Linked DNA regions of Homo sapiens: region 2 is linked to region 1. The links come from fine-mapping of genetic effects on gene expression. Tissue or cell type: lymphoblastoid cells. Region 1 holds a variant in brackets; the other region holds the start of a gene. All regions are shown on one strand. Distances are between the middles of the regions.

The links. PIP is the estimated chance that this variant, and not a neighbour inherited with it, causes the effect.
Region 2: TAPT1-AS1 starts here. The variant in region 1 is fine-mapped to the expression of TAPT1-AS1 in lymphoblastoid cells (GTEx, PIP above 0.99).

The regions. Positions count from the first base shown.
Region 1 is chr4:16,348,688-16,356,869 of GRCh38, forward strand. It overlaps LOC124900674 (a long non-coding RNA gene), which reads left to right. Exons shown (of 5, transcript XR_007058064.1): 5 at 6,933-8,182. Among named protein-coding and RNA genes, the nearest start is that of TAPT1-AS1, 130 kb to the left of the region's middle. The variant G/A (reference allele first, on the strand shown) is at 3,298.
Region 2 is chr4:16,222,197-16,230,378 of GRCh38, forward strand. It overlaps TAPT1-AS1 (TAPT1 antisense RNA 1), which reads left to right and starts at 4,467. Exons shown (of 3, transcript NR_027697.1): 1 at 4,467-4,981. It overlaps TAPT1 (transmembrane anterior posterior transformation 1), which reads right to left and starts at 4,275. Exons shown (of 14, transcript NM_153365.3): 1 at 4,063-4,275. The coding sequence starts at 4,261. RefSeq lists silencers at 3,828-4,207, 4,318-4,367, 4,378-4,477, 4,488-4,557, 4,618-4,817 and an enhancer at 5,328-5,387.

The sequences.
Region 1 (8,182 bases):
TGTTACGTTAAAAGTCATTTCCTCCTCTGATACCCGTGCCAGCTTACATTACCCTGCTCTATTTCCACTTTCCTTATCACAACATTGATCCCCTCTTCCTTCCATCACTTCCCCACCTAGCCAATCTGAGCAAAGGGCACTACCATTCATCATTCATTCACCCAGTTGCTCAAGATAAAAACATAATGGTCATTCTTACTTCCTTTCTTTCCAACATGCCTTTTATTCATTCCAGCAGTATGCCTTGCCAGCTCCATCTCCAAGTTACCCTGTCACTACCTCTTTTCAAGTCAGTCTTGGCCATGATCATACAAGCCAGCAGCATTTCTCTCTTGCACTTCCTTAAAATTCTTCCTTCTGCTAACACTTTGGCTCTCTCTCTTTGCATTCCATTGTTCACCCAGCTGCCAAGGTAGTATTTTGCAAACTCCAAAGAGATCACACCTTTCCCCTGCTTAAAATCCCCCATCTATGGCCAGGTGCAGTGGCTCAAGCCTGTAATCCCAGCAGTTTGAGAGGCCAAGGCGGGTAGATCACGAGGTCAGAAGTTTGAGACCAGCCTGGCCAATATGGTGAAACCCTGTCTCTACTAAAAATACAAAAATTAGCCGGGTGTGATGGTGTGCACCTCCCAGCTACTCGGGAGGCTGAGGCAGAAGAATCACTTGAACCTGGGAGGTGGAGGTTGCAGTGAGCCAAGATCATGCTACTGCACTCCAGCCTGGGCAACAGAGCGAGACTCCGTCTCAAAAAACCAAACCAAACCAAACCAAAACAAAAAAAACCCCGTCTCCCTTAGAAGAAATGCTTCTTTTGGTTTCCAAGGCCCTATGTGTTCTGCCCTCTGTTTGTCTCTCAGACTTTGCTCCTGTTCCTCCCTCCCCTGATTCACTGTTCCAGACCTCTTTGCCTTCTTGCTGTTTCTTACTCCTCTGTCTGCCTGGACTACTCTTTCCCCAGTGACTCCCATGACTTGCTTCTCCTGATAATCCTCATCTCTTCTCATTCAGGCAATGTCACTTAGAATATACTGGTAAGCAATGAGGGATTTGGAGTCAGATTTCTTGGATTAAAATTCAACAATTTTCAGCAAGGGACATTAGATAAGTTTCTTAAATTACCTTTGCCTCAGTTTCCCTCAACAACTTTAAAGTTTGTAAGTACTTAGCAGGGGGCTTGTCCGTGGTAAATCATATGCAAATGTGGCTCATTATAATTTTCTTAACTTAACTCTTCAGAGAGACTTCCTCGATCACTCAGTGTAAAAAGGTAGCCCCAAGTCTCTCTATCACATCAGTCTGTTTTTAATTCTTTGTAAAACCTATAGCATTACCCTGTTTGTTCATTTATGTGTTGCTTCCTCCTCCTAGAATTGAGCTCGAGAGACCAGAAGGTGTGTTCCTGCTGTATCTTCAGCATCTGGAACAGGTCTAGCACCTGGTAGCATTTCAATTGGTAATACACACACAGGTGTGCCATTGACCTTGGAATAAAATCCAGACTCCCAGCTCCATCCTACAAGGCGGATATTGTCTCCTCTTTGTCTTTCTGACCCCATCTCTAACCTCCCTTCTCTTTCCTCGTGAGGCCTCTTCCTTAGCATGAGTTTCTTCCCACAGGATTCTTTTGAGCACCTTGCAAATAAAGTTCTCAGACTTTCCTCAAAAGACCTAATATTACTCCTAATTTTTCTGAATTTGCAGCCAGCACCCATCTTAGGTCTTTTGCTATGGATTCCACTCTTCTGGATGTTACCACTTCCTCTTTGAGTCCATGTCTGCACTTTTATTTAGTTCCCATGTTACATAGTTCCTGTCTGCTAGCCTCTCTCCTCCATTCTAGAATCCCACTTCAAGGGAGTTGAACAGCACCATGCTGTTTGGTTACAAATTGAATTTTAGGGACATTGTAAATAATGTTAACATACTGCCTGGATAGTCTTGTCTCTTTGTCCTTTATACACGGATTATGGTTGACAACTCACCATTGACACAGTCCATGATTCCAATTCTTCTTTTTAAAAACTAATTATCATTCTATTTCTGGGCAAGACCCCCAACCAGGGAGGTAAACAACTAAATCATTATGATTTTACATGTCTACAGAGAGAGATAAAATGATATAATAGGAGAATAATTAAAAAGCTATTGTGTTAGTTAATTATAACTTTAAAATAATTTATTCTTTAGAGGAAATAAAAAGAAATAAATGGAAATCCTAAAAATTATGGCACACTATGTAAACAGATCTCTTTGATGACACTTAAATGTAGATACTCCTTTTAAAAATTGGGTTCTGATTTTGAATACACTTGGAATTTCATGCCTGGTTCCAGATTAATAATGATAGAATAAAATTCTTTAGTATTTAACACGTTACTGTGACACAGCGCTTCCTTATAATTTTGGGAAGTTTAAGGCCAAACTGAAATAGTAAGAGCATTAACCCAATTCTTTGAGAAAAAAAAGAAAAAACTGGAATAAAAAATAATTAAGTCCCCTTTGCCTCCTAATGAACTGGCATGCAACTGTATCCAATTTCCCTCTGCTTTTCCTTTGATCTCTTTAAGCTCTCCCTTGGTCAAACCTCTTCTGTTTGAATTGCACTAATTTGTAACTCGGCTTCTTCCATCTGGGGATACAGATTTGTGCAGACCCATTCCACGCTGGGCTAAATGCGTTCAACACCTGGCTGAACATATTGGTTTCAGTGTATTTACCCAAATTGTTAGTAAAACATCAGAAACAGTCGGCTCCTGCTTATCAAATTGCAAACGGGGTCCCTATCACTTAACGCTAATACAATTTAGACTCGAAGTTCACAAACAGATGCACGGCATTTCCAATCATATCAGCTGCAGCCTCTGGAATCCCAGATTTGGTGTCTAAAACATCCACAGAGAGGGAGAGAAATAAGGGCAGTAATTCAGTTGGTCTCAGCCTTGTGTTTCATACATATTCTGCAGATAATCTTTTGACTCTTCCTTTTTGTCTCCTTTTAACGTCCGCAAATCCTTTGACTAGGGCTATGTCCCGAGTGCTATAGCCACTCTTATTTCCTGTGGTCTTTTCAAATCCATTCTTTTTAGCTCCCTCTGTTTGGTTGAAGGATTAGAGCTTCTTAGCCTTGAAGCCAATTTTGGAATGCAGATTGAGGGTCAATGGTGAAGAAACCGTTTCCTCCTTCCATTCTTGTCTTGAAGTATCCTTTTTGACTTACATGTCTAGAAACCAACAAAAGCCCTCTATTATTATGGTAGTTGGAAAATGGCCCAGTTCCAGCCCAATCCTTTGCAGC[G/A]AAGAGGTCCTTCCCCCCATTCTTGCCTTCTGCTTTAGCATTCATTATTGTGATGCCTTGTTTACTTACATTTCTATCTGGTGATAATAGGCTTTTCAGCCTTTGGGCTTCAAGGTCCCTGGCTGCAGAAGGAAGGCCAAGAAAAAGAGAGAAAATATGGGATGGCTGGGGAACTTGCCCTGCGACTGGCTTCTCTTTGTCGATTCTGAACACTGATGATCAACTCATTGTGTCCTACTCATCTCTCTTAAAAAATTAGAATCTGTGAATGAACCAGTTTGTTTTCGTAGTTCAGTGTCTGGGTGGGGTTTCAGAGCCATGAGCAAAGTTAGTCGCTTGTTATCCCTTCTAAGGAGTGGATGTGGTGGCCCCAGGATGGAAAGAACCTACTCTATGCTGCTGTAGGAATGGATCTATAGCTGGCCCTGCCATCTCTTATGACACAGAAGAGACCTCTCTCCTCCCACACACAGGTAGGAACAGAGTCCACCCCTTCTGCAGCCCCCCACTACCCAGTGGACACAGCAGCCTTAGGAAATCAACTCTCATGTTTCAACACAGCCAAGATTTTCCAAGGAATAGATTGCAATTGTGTCTGTGGTTATGGGTCAGGATTTGTGTGCTTTATATGTCATTTGTGTAGCCAGGGAGGTAATTTTTATAGTATCCATCAATTTATTTATCCATTTACTACTTAGCCATTCCTTCATGTGTTCATTTACCAGTCCTCACGCTGGAGCGCTCACCACCTTCTGGGTCCTGCACTGGGTCCTGACAGTAGATGCTTACTAAATAATGAGCAATAGATGAATAAGAAAGTGGAAACAAGGCTGGGGAATGTCCCACAACAATTCATAACCAGGAGACATCAGTCACAATCCTGACTAGGGTGGTGAAAGGGTAAGGGGGTGTAAAGGGTCAAATAATTCAACAATTAGCCAATAAAATATTTTGTTGAAAGCAGACTTCTGTGTACTCCATCAATGATGAGAATTGAAAGAGGTTGTCTTAGGAAAGGGGTGAGGTGATACTGGGATGGCAAAGTCAAATCCCAGATGAAAGGCTTGGCTATGGTGGCCCCTTAGATACAGTGGGCCCATTTTAGAGAGGTCCTCTGTGTATCTTAGATGTGTATCCTTTTTCTTATTTTTCCCCATCAAGGAATCCATTTCCTTTAGGAAGCCCATCCCTTAGGAGACTTGATGACAGTGGACAGAGACTTGATGACATTACAGACCCTGAAATTCAGATTCTGACTTTCCTAGCTTCCATGCAGCCAATGCTTTGGTATGTGCCTTGGACTCGGGTAATCAGATACAGGTGCCTTAGGCTGTGAATTGTGAGCTACCGATGCGAAGAAAAGCAGATAATTCATTCTGGTAGCACGTGGCAACAGCTACAACAGCAGCATCCAGCTTCTAGAGGAGCAGTGGCCATGGTGATGGTTTCACTGTCTGCATCTATCAGGCAGTACTGGTGGTGCACCCTGCCATGCCTCATCTCAGCAATGACACAGTGTTGTCCTCCCGCAAGGAAGTTGAATTTTGCCATTTTCCCTACAAGCACAGCCTCTGAAGCTGGTTTCCCAATATTCCTTCAGCTCTAAAGAATCCAGTATCCTAATGGTAGAGCAGTTTATGGTTTAAATTTGCCAGTGGTTTTCTGTTGCATAAAATAATCTATCGCCCAAGTTTATTCTCTTGAAGTGACATCCAAATTTGCATAATCCCATTCAAAATCTTACTTTTAATCTTTAATTTTGTTTTTAATTAACTTTTTATTTTGTAAAAACAACTGTAGCAAAGTTGCAAGAACCTACCCTTCATCTAGATTTACCTACTGTTAACATTTGTGCCACATGTTTGCTCTATCTTCCTCTCTACACACAAATGTGCTCACATTGTTATTCCTTTCACTATTCTTATTTTTATCTTTTGCTGAACCATTTGTGGAGATCTTACATTTCACTCCAAATATTTCAATGTCACTACCCTAAAGAAAGTGACATTTTCCAATATAATCACAATGCAATTATCAAACTCAGGAAGTTTACATTTATTAAAACTGATATCCAATATATAGTCTGCATTCAAATGTTGTTAATTGTCCCAATGCTGCCTTTTTGGCTATGATTTTTCTCCCTAATCCAGAATCCAATTCAGGATTATGCATTGCTTGTAGTCATTATGTCTATTTGGCCTTCTTTCTCTCTCTCTTTTTTTTAATGACATTGACATTTTTGTAGGGTACAGTCTGTTGTTTTGTAGAATGTCTGTTAATTTGTGTTTTTCTGGCTGTTTCCTCTCAGTTTGATTTAGGTTATGTGTTCCCAAGTCTTTCACAAATCCCTTGAATGTGCAACCTGTGTCTCAAATCTCTGACAACATTGAATCTGTAATTTCATTTGCTAAAGTAGGGCTGAGATGGTAATTCTATTCTGTTTGGTTGGATAAGTGACTTTGTAACTACAGGAAAGTACAAAATATAAGCATAGAGATGATAAAAAATAAATTTGGTGTTTAAAACTTCATGTAAATTGTGATTATACAAGTGTAATGAAAACTTTTGTATTCATTGTGTTGTTTGGATAAACTTGGTAGGATGTTTGAAACATTTAAGATATAATGACATTCTAGAGAATCTGGCTTAAGATTTTAATTTAAATTGTAAGATGGTTTTATTTAATTACATTTGCTTAAAGCTTAAGAGAACTGAAGTTACCAAATTTATATATTGCTTTTGAAGATATTGAAATGCTTACCTGTATCTGATCTACTAATTTGATAAATTCATATTTATTAAAGTTGGAAGAGTTAGCTTGAGAAAATAAAATATATTCAATTTATGATCATAGTTTGACATGTTTAAGGAAACTTAATTAAGTTTTAGATAGTATGAGAGATTTTAATTTGTTGTTTATAAGCTTTATGACTTTAATTTGATATGTCTGAAAAAATTTGTTGAAGTTTGAAAATAATGCTTAGGAAAAATTAATCTGTGAAATTTATGCTATAAATTAGCAGAAATTAAAGAATGAGAATGTTTTTAATTTTCACTCCCAATTGTTAAATTTATAAGCAAATATACTGGACTTGAAAGTTGAATTTAAAGGCTAAAGGAATGACAGATTTTAAAATTTAAAAAAGTAAGTAAATTACTATCAATAAAAACCCAAGTCATGGTAATTTTTTTTTTTCTATACACCAATCCTCCTTTGGATGTTAAAAAAACCAGTTGATAAGTTCTGGGTACACAGTTCCTGATATATTATTAAGTCATAGAAAAGATAGACAGATGGACACAAAATCGTGGTACAAAATTCTGAATGCAATGGAAGAGGCAGACCCAGCGGGTTGGAGAAGGCACCTATTGGATCTCAGGGTGGAATAGGATCAGAGAATGCTCCAGGGGTGAACAGGAGTTTATTAGCCAAAGAGGAATGGAATGGCTTTCCCAGCATGAGTTGGAGAATTGAAACAGTGCTAGGGAGAGGGAGGTATGGAAGGCGAGAGATGTTGTGCTTGACAAGATCTAATCAGGTCTCAGCATTGCATAAGGCTGTGAGAAATTTTTTCAAGTGATTTATTTATTTATTGAGTGCCCACTGTGTGCCAGCATCTGTGTTTCTCTTTCAGGGCAAAGACATGGAAGATACGGGCCCTCACTGTATAGTAGCTATATCAGTCTTCTTGGGCTGCCCCAAGTCTCTGGTCTTGGATGTTTCTGGTTGTCTGGCTGGACGGCTTAAACAACAGGAGTTAATTTTCTTACAGTTTTGGAGGCTGGAAACCCAAGATCAAGGTACCAACACGGTTGATTTTTAGATCAAGGTGCCAACAAAGGTTGGCCTCTCTCCTTGGGTTGCAGATGGCAACTGTCTCACTGTGTTCTCATATGGTCTTACCCCTGTGCACATGCAGAAAGAGAACGAGAGAGAGAGAGCACAAGCGAGCTCTGGTGCCTCCTCCTCTTCTGAAAAGTATACCAACTCTATTGATTTAAGGCCTTTCTCTAATAACCTAATTTAACATTAATTACCTCCCTAAAGGTCCTATCTCAAAATATAGAACCTATGAATTTTGAGGGCATACAGTTAAATCCATAACATTAGCATTCGTTATCTCGTACTCAAGTGAGTCAGTTTATCGATATGTCTACATGACAAGGCTGACAGTGCCGTCAGAACTGGAGCACAGACTTACGTTGTTTTTTGTATCTCCAACACTTGGCATGAAGCCTAAAACATAGGAAGCACTAGATAAAAGCCAATTATGTGAGTAAAAGAAATTACTAAATGAATAAATGATGGCAACTAAACCCAGCATGACAATTCAGTATGATATGGTTTAAACTTTTATTCAACAATATTATCTGGGGCCCATTGTGTCCCATGCTTTCTAGAACCTTTGAAATATCAGTAAACAAAACCATTAAAACTCTCTGTCATTTAGGTAAAATTCCTTAGGAGCTGCTGAAACAGGTATCTTTGTTCAAGTAATTTTTTCCAGGAAATGGTCGTAGAAGAGGGGAATGAAGGAAGCAGAATAGGGAGGGAATAAAAGCTAAGTAAGAATGGGGCCTCAACTGGAGGCTAGCCTTAGTTTGTTCCCATGGGGAAGCTCTGAAGCACAAATAACATAGCAGAGTTAGTCTTACCTTGAGTCAAGGGGTGCTTAGTCTTTTGTACACCCATGTCAGTCAGTCATTAGCTGAGGTCTTTCCTCCAGAGGATATAGGATATAGTTCCACAGGACGATGGTTGTTGTATTTGCCCATTTATAGGACGTAGAACTATCAAGATATTCTGAAAGATCACCTTCATGCCAGCAATTTTTTGGCCCCATGATTAAGGAGCAGTTCTATATCCTCATGAGGACAGTGGTCT
Region 2 (8,182 bases), 130 kb before region 1:
GCTAGGATTGAATTTCAGAGCGTAAACTAAGTTAAAGTTAAAAACTGTCAAAAGCCAAGACACTGAACTGATCAAAAACCAAAATAAGTAACTTTTCATTGTTCGTTTGGTCTATATATACTAATTAAGTAAAGCAAGTGAGAATTTTAAAAGCAAAGCAATAGTTTGTCAGAAGTAGCTAATTTTACTTTGTATCTGGTTTGTGGTTACTCCAAGTAATTTCCCGGTTTTATTATTTTTATTTTTCTTTGTGAACAAATTAATTGGCTCTAGATCATAATTTTAGAATCAGTCACCCTTTAATCATCCATTTGGTTAAGTTTGGGGCCACTGGGATAACTATGTGATATAGGTGAAGACTGGTTAAATGAAAACATATTTTAATAAAAATGTATTTGTAAGAAGAAACTGACAAATTTTCAGTTACACAAAGAATAAGACATAGGTAATATGAATAGTTAAAACCTTCGTCCCACTCGAAATCTTTTAAGGGTATTGCTAAAAATTCAGTTGACTTTTCTGGGTTTCATTCTTCCTGCCTCTGCTCAATCTCTAACAGAGGTGAAGCAAGAAGAGGTCTAACCATGGTTAAAGGGAGAGGAGAGAGGCAAAAGAGATGGATAATAAGTTGAAGTTTTAGAAGTCCAGAGTCACTGTTAAAGAAGAAAGAAATGGGTCCATGGCACTGTTACCAGTAGAAACAATATGTTCACCTATACCCGACTTCAGGCTTTCTTGTTTTACAAGCAATACCTATCCCCATGCATCTCCAACACCTGCATTACACAGGTACTGTTTCACCTGTGCTACCCTCACAGGTGCTACCCTTATTTACACCAAGCCTTCTGTTAAGTCTCCATGGTGACTAGAAGCAACCTAGATGCTTCAGATACTGAACTATCTAGTAGTGGCATTATGAAACAGAACCAAACTGATTAGGCAAGCAGTCTAAGCAAGCACAGAGTTTACAAAGCAATTCAACAACCCAACCAAGCCAAAAACACAGATTTCCTAATGCTTAGTCCAAAGTTGATTTGCTGTACTTAGATTCCTAAATAAAAATATGGCTATACAGAAACTCTCCTACCTAGGACTTCTGCAGATGAATCAAGTGGGGAACAAGCACAAAAACATAACATTGATTATTTGGTTTTATGTCAAAAGGAACAACAGAAGTTGGTAGTATTTTCAAGGACAGGAAGAAAATACAGAAGAGATCAATCTGCAGTTCTTGATAACCACTACATCCAGAGTTCAAGGCCAGTAACCACATATGCAACAAGGAAATACACAATGACCATTCTGAGAGAGCAAATAAAAACAGGAATGATGAGTGGGATTCCCAATTCTAACTATGTTAAAAGGTGTAAGTACTCGCATCTGAGACATGCGTCAGCCTATTGCCAGGCTAAATATAAGTCAGAACGGGAGTTCTGAGAACGAAGTGATGAGGAAAAGAAAGCTTAGACTTAATGGAGACACATGTTTAGTATAATACAATATAGAGCATATACAGCTATTCATACAGACAAATATACATATCTAGTTTCTAAACATATAAATCAACAAGGAGAGATATAAAACAAAAAATGAACCTCAGACACCACGTTTTATTTTATTCAGATGGAAAGAGTTTGGATAAGTACCTAATATGTACATTCATTTAGGGAATTCTAGGCTGTTGGGACTGATCAACAAATGTCTTACCTGTAGGAGCCCTAAATTCCTTGTGAGAAATGATAAAGGGAACTTTGGAACTGACTGATGGTTCAGCCACCAAGACACTAAGATTATGACTTTCAAAAAGAAAAGCCAAAGGTTGCCTTAACTTGCAGGGGGATCTAGATCTCAAGGGCAGTGGTGCTAGACTCTCAGAGGCACACAAGAATATAAAAAAATCAACAAGTAATACCTTAAGTCCGAGCATCTAGCCGTGGAGGACTAGTTTGATTCAGGGAGAAATGCTATCCAAATGACTCCAGGTGCTGCCACTCAAAGGCCCTCTGACCCAGGCCAGCTCCTAGGGAATCGTTTTTAAAAATTCTTAAAAGGAGGGGAAGGAAGGATTACAGAGCAGGGGAAGAGGGCAGCGCTAGACTTAGCAGCCTGGGCATTGAAGAAGGACTAAAATAATTGTTTCTAGTGGGGAAACCTCTAACAAATATGGTTATCGGAGCTACAGACTGGGTGCTAGCAGTGGCAGGAGCTATGTGACTAGCAGAGCAGGGACACCAGGGGAAAAGAAGGAGGGGCTTATGTGGAGGCTCAGAGAGAACACTGGCCAGTGGCTCCAGCTGAAATACTCCTGGAATTTGGAATTCTCACCTAAATCCTGATCGCCAAGGCTAGTGTGACTTGGTAAAGCAGGAGTGGCCACTGACATCTCCTCACACAAAATCAATGGAACTGGGGAAAGAACAAGGACTACCCCAACAGCTAAACCTGGAGGCATCTCCCTGATAATGACTTCCTGCAACTATGGGTTAAAAAAAATCCAGCCTTAAACATGGTGAACCATGTTGGTGAAGAATGGATACGTGGTATAATGAAGTCCATGGAAGTCCAGGTATCCAGTCCCAGAAAAAGCCAGGGAAGAAGTGTTAAGTGATACTGCAAGCTCAAGATCTGTGCTCATCAATAGGCTTCAAACAACTTCATTTCCTCTCCACGCAAACAACAAAAAAAGGCTTTTAAAATGGTGGCTTTCCTGCAACTGAGAAATGTTTTAAAGAAAGTATAGTGAAGCCTGGCTACATCTATCTCTATTTACAACAGAGTGCTTTTAATATTCAAGTCTAAGTAAGTAAACAGACAGTTGAGAGATTTGCTATTTTGTCTTACTGAGATCCTGCCAATGAAGAAAGTAAATACTCTTGAAAGCAAATGTTTAACTGAGAACTAAACCAAATAAAGTATGGTTGAGAATTTTTAAGTGGTTAATTGAAAAAGACCAAACAAGACCGTCTGTAATTTTCCAAAAATATAGACTGCTTCAAATAGAACCTACGTCCAGTTCTGGGAATCAGCAAATCAATTAGAATCGCATCTGATCAACTTTATGCCCCTTAAGTAGTTTTAAAATTTCAGTACTCAAGTACAATCAATGATGTAATCAGCCTCACAACTTAGTTATTTGCATGAACTTCAGGAAATAACGGCTAACACAGCCCCTTTTGGACAACAGAAGTAATTTTTTAGTTGGAAGAAATTTAATGGAGTTATGGTTCAGTTGCTGTTTACAGCTTGAGAATTAAAACGTTGGGTTCACTCTATATTCAAGAAGACATCCATCTCAAAACCTTTTTTCATTTAAAACTAATCTGTAACTGCAATATGAATACAAATGCAAGTTTTAAAAATTCTTTTAAAATGAGAATAAAAACCTACAGCTTATAGAAACTGTAACATTGTAACAATACGTTTAAAACTGGTCATTGAATGTAGGATTCATAAGTACACATTTTCTCATCTAGTAATTTTTTTGGCATAAGTTTCAGTTCAGGAAAAGTTCAGATGCAACATTTTATGGAGTGTTAAATATTTCTGTACTGGGCAAAACTACTGAACTTCATGGTCACTACCACACCGTCAGCTGTCTGTGAAAAATCTACTTGCAGGGCAAGTTAACAGGTTTCTATGGCTCAAGTTTGCTTAAAATACAGAACAAAAAAAGTCACCTTGGCATGAATATAATTAAGAAATCAGCCGTGTGCTTCTCACGTTTGGGCTCCGAGACGTGGGAGATGCCCGCTAACCTAAGACCTTCCGAGGGCGATGCAAGGACCCGGACAGAACTTTCCCGGCCGCAGACCCCTTCTAGGGCACACCTGGCCTGGCGCGGCCGCGGGGGCCTCGGGGCTGCGCGCGCAACCCGCCCGAGGAACTGTCAACGGCCGCGGAGCCTCGGCAGCCTCGGCGGCTCCGCGCGCCCACAGCCTGGGGAGCCCCGGGAGGCAACGGCAGCCGCGCGGCTCGGGGGCCGGGGTTCCAAGGCGCCCCCGCCGCCCTCGGTCCCCAGTCCGCCCCTCGGAGCCCGCCACGGCCTAGCGCCGCCCGCCTCACCTGTGCGGCCCCGGCGCCTCTCCCGCCGCCGGTCGCTCTCGTAGAAGCCCAGCGTCTCTGTGAGCTGAGGCGCCGGCGGGGGCCCCTGTCCGCCGCTGCCGCCCGGCTGCTCCGCCTCGCCGCGGCCGTCCCGCTGCGGGCCGTCCACGCCGCCACCGCCGCCTTCTCCCGGAGCGGCCGCGTCGCCGACGCCCGCCATGTTCCGAGCACAACAAACTGTCCCCGCCGCCTCCCTCCAGCCTCTGCCTCCGGCCGGCCCCCTCCCCGCCTCGCCCCGCCCCTCGCCGGAGCCCGAGCCGCCGCCGCCGCCGCCGCCATCCGCGGCCCGCCGACCGGCGCGAGCCATTGGCGTCAGCGACGCGTGTGAGGCCGCTGCCGCCGCCGCCGCCGCCACGGTAGCCGCCATCTTCTTCCTGCCCTCGCCGTGGCGGGCGACGGTTTCTCGCGCCGTGGCTGGCTCGGCCGGCCGGGGCACCGCGCCGGGCTCCATGCAGCCGGGCTGCGCGGTCCCGCAGAGCGGGCGCCTCCGGGGCTCGAGTCGGGGACCCGGCAGGAGCGGGCCGGGGATGGCGGCGGCGGGCGGCGGGTCGGCCGTGGAGCCCCGGAGAGGCGGCCGCCACCACCGCTGCCCGCAGTCTGCGAGGTGTCCGGCGGTCCGCTCAGGGCCTCTTTTGCAGACTCGGTGCCCGGAGTGCGCCGGCGCCGCCCGCCAGGTCTTGGCACTGCTGGCGCGGCCGCGGCGGCGGGGGCCCGGCTCCAGATCACCGACCCCCACGAGCGCCGGCCCTGCCTGCCCGCTATTTTGGTTCCATCTCTTCTGCATATTTATGCTTGCCTGTTACATTCCCTGGCCTCTGAGTGTCCTTTGGCAGTTTCCAAAGCATTTGGGCAAGAAGGAGCTTGGGCAGCTTCACAACAGGTGGGGACGCGCAGGGGAGGGGCCGCGGCCGGACCGGCAGAGTTTCAAGGGCTGGCGCGCCGGCGGACTTTCCACACTGTCTTTCGGGACTGGGGTTAGGAGACAGCCCTTGGCCACCACTGTGTCCTTACTTTGTCGCTTTACTTGGGGCTGGACCTCCCCTTTCCAGCTCTGGCGTGTGACCCCGCAACGAGCGTGGTGTCGAGACCACCACCAGCTGGGGCGGTGGGAGCGAAGGTGCCCCAGGCTCGGGGAAGGTGGAAACCTTTTCCCCGCTCCCCAAGTGATTGTTGCGCGCTCCGGTGAGGGGACAGTGGTACCTCGATTTCCCGTGTGCCAGCTTCGGGACTCAGCTGTGCTTTTGTGTCTCTTTGATTAGCAAAAGCAAAACGAATTCCTCCCCGAACACTAAGCTTCCTGGAAACTTCCCTAGACCTAAACTTGAGAACCGCATATAAATGGGCCTTGAGGGTTCTGTCGTCAGTAGCGGGTTACGTGATTGCAAACGAGCAAGTTTAAAACGGAGTGGGCTTTGGGCTGCAGAGCCGCCTGGCATTCTGACAGCTGAGCAGGAGGCAGAGGTGAGAGTCCAAGATGGACTAAAAATGTCCCAGCAGCTGGGAGCCCAACCTCGGCCCAACCTCGTTGAAAGGAGGAACATTCGGTGCAGCCGTCGGAACCTTATTATTTATGAAAGGGGACAGCTCACAGGATTACATTTTTCTAAGCCAATCCTGTGACCATCCTCCATGAAATTCTCTATTTTGGTTGCATGTGGTCAAAACTGAGCCTCACTGAAACAATTGAAAACAAATACTCCCGACAAATCTTAAGAATCGTTTTGAAAATCAAAAGGTGGGGAAAATGTTGTGGCTTCTGAGCTTTCTTCAGCCCATATTCTATTATTCTCTGATGTTTTATGGTGTAAAATCATACCCATTCCATTATGTATTGATTGTCAAGAAGGAAGTAGGCTTTTATTGCTATTTTTATGTCAGTTTCCATTTACTGTCTCACCACATTTATTGGGTTATTGCCTTTGCCTTTGACTCAACAGGAGCTGGAAGGGTAGGAATCCCAAATTCTGTTGCCTAAGGCAGCCAGTTGTCAGAATGGACTTTCCTCATTTTCTATTATGAGGCCTGAGGAAAGACATTCAGTTCCAAAGGCTGTGCCTATCCTTTTAAATAGAAGAGAGAGGGCCCGGCACGGTGGCTCACGCCTGTAATCCCAGCAGTTTGGGAGGCCGAAGGGGGCGAATCACGAGGTCAGGAGTTCCAGACCAGCCTGGCCAACATAGTGAAACCCCGTGTCTACTAAAGATACAAATATTAGCCGGGCGTAATGGCGGGCGCCTGTATTCCCAGCTACTCGGGAGGCTGAGGCAGGAGAATGGCTTGAATCCGGGAGGCGGAGGTTGCAGTGAACCGAACCGAGATCGCGTCGCTGGACTCCAGCCCGGGCGACAGAGTGAGACTCCGTCCCAAAAAAAAAAAAAAAAAAAAAAAAAAAAAAAAAAAAAAAAAAAAGAAAAGAAGAAGAGGAAGCAGCCGTGCCAAAAAAAAAAAAAAAAAGAAGAGGAAGCAGCCGTGCCGAGGCTAGGTACTGCCTAAAGAAGCGGGGGAACAAATTGGAAATGTGGGAATGCGAATGTGGGCAAGTTGAGGAACTTGTAGCTTCTCGTCGGTTGAATCTTTTCACTGAAGCTGCTTTATTATATCTGACATGTGAAACTACACAATTTCAAACAAACCCATATTGAAGTCAACATACAAAAAAGCATTTAAAAAACAACCATTAGTAAAAATAATTTTTTCAGTTAACGCTATTCTTCCCTTGTATAGGTGTTGATAATCATATAATCAAATAGCTTATTGCATATGGAGAGTTGTTTTCTTTGAGTTAATTCAACGTATTGCAACTTAGTTAGAATCCAGGAAAATAGTATTTTCAAATGTGTATTTGGAATCTTCAAAATACTAGGTTACAAATTACCTTAAGAGATATTTATGCAGCATAGAAGAACCAGCAGTTCTCAGAGGAAGATAAATAGTTAAAATATCATAATGCACTTTATATCAGTTGTAAAAAGAAAAATACAGGCTTAGATTTATGGTATTACCGTTAGAAAAACAATATGAGTATTTAAGAAACATAGCAACCCTAGCCATTAAATAGGCATCAAATAACATTCTGAATTAAGTTATAAGATAAAACCAAGATTTGGATGACAATGACAATATTGTCCATCATTGTTATCCAAATCCTGGTTTTATCTTATAACTGGTTTTAGGGGCAATTGTAGTGAATTGCCCCTAAAAGATGTTTGAAATTCGTTTCATACACTTTTCCTGAATCAACTTAAGTATTGATTTCACAAACAATAAGATGGTGTGCCGTAGCATGTCATCGCACTAGAAAGAAAAAAAGTACTCCACCAGTGGGAAATAATTTCAGCAGAGGAAAGTGATGAATATTGGATGTGTGTTTAGAAATCAGAGGTTGATAAAGTCTTAAGATTGCTATATGCACTATGAGGCTAATGTATTTTGAAAATTGCAAAACAATATTTTTTAAACAACAAAAATTTGGTGAGTAGCATACGCAGACTTCAAAAATAAATTGCGTAACTTCATATTTCAGTAATTAAAGATTTAACAATAGTGATTTTGTGGCTAAACAAAATATACTGAACCCATTATGTATAAACCATGGATTCAGAGCTCCAGAAAATTATCTTAATGAGGCATATAAACTCTTTTTGTTTAATGTCCACACCAAATCATTATGGTCTGCCATTTCATGAAATAACAAGTTTTAAAATAAGTGATGTTTTTTAGTTTGTATATCTATATTCTTTTCTACCAGGTATAGCACAGTGTAGTACAAGGGCCTACAGTTACAAGCCTTGGGAAAGATACTGTTTTGGCCACATATTTCAGCTATGTGACCCTGGAAAGAGGGTCTCAGAGGGCCACTGTGGCCCTCAGTGTCTTTTCATTGGTAAATTGGGGCAACATCTTTTGTATAATGAAAGCTGAAAAAAATAACGATTTTCCTTTTATTCTCCCTTCCTTTCATTTAGGCTGTAGTTTTCACTTTTTAACTACAAAGCAATTTATCTCTTGATAACACTTCTAGTGTATTGTCCCTAAAGTACTTTTGAAAGTAGTTCTGTACACTTTTCCTGAGTAATAAAAA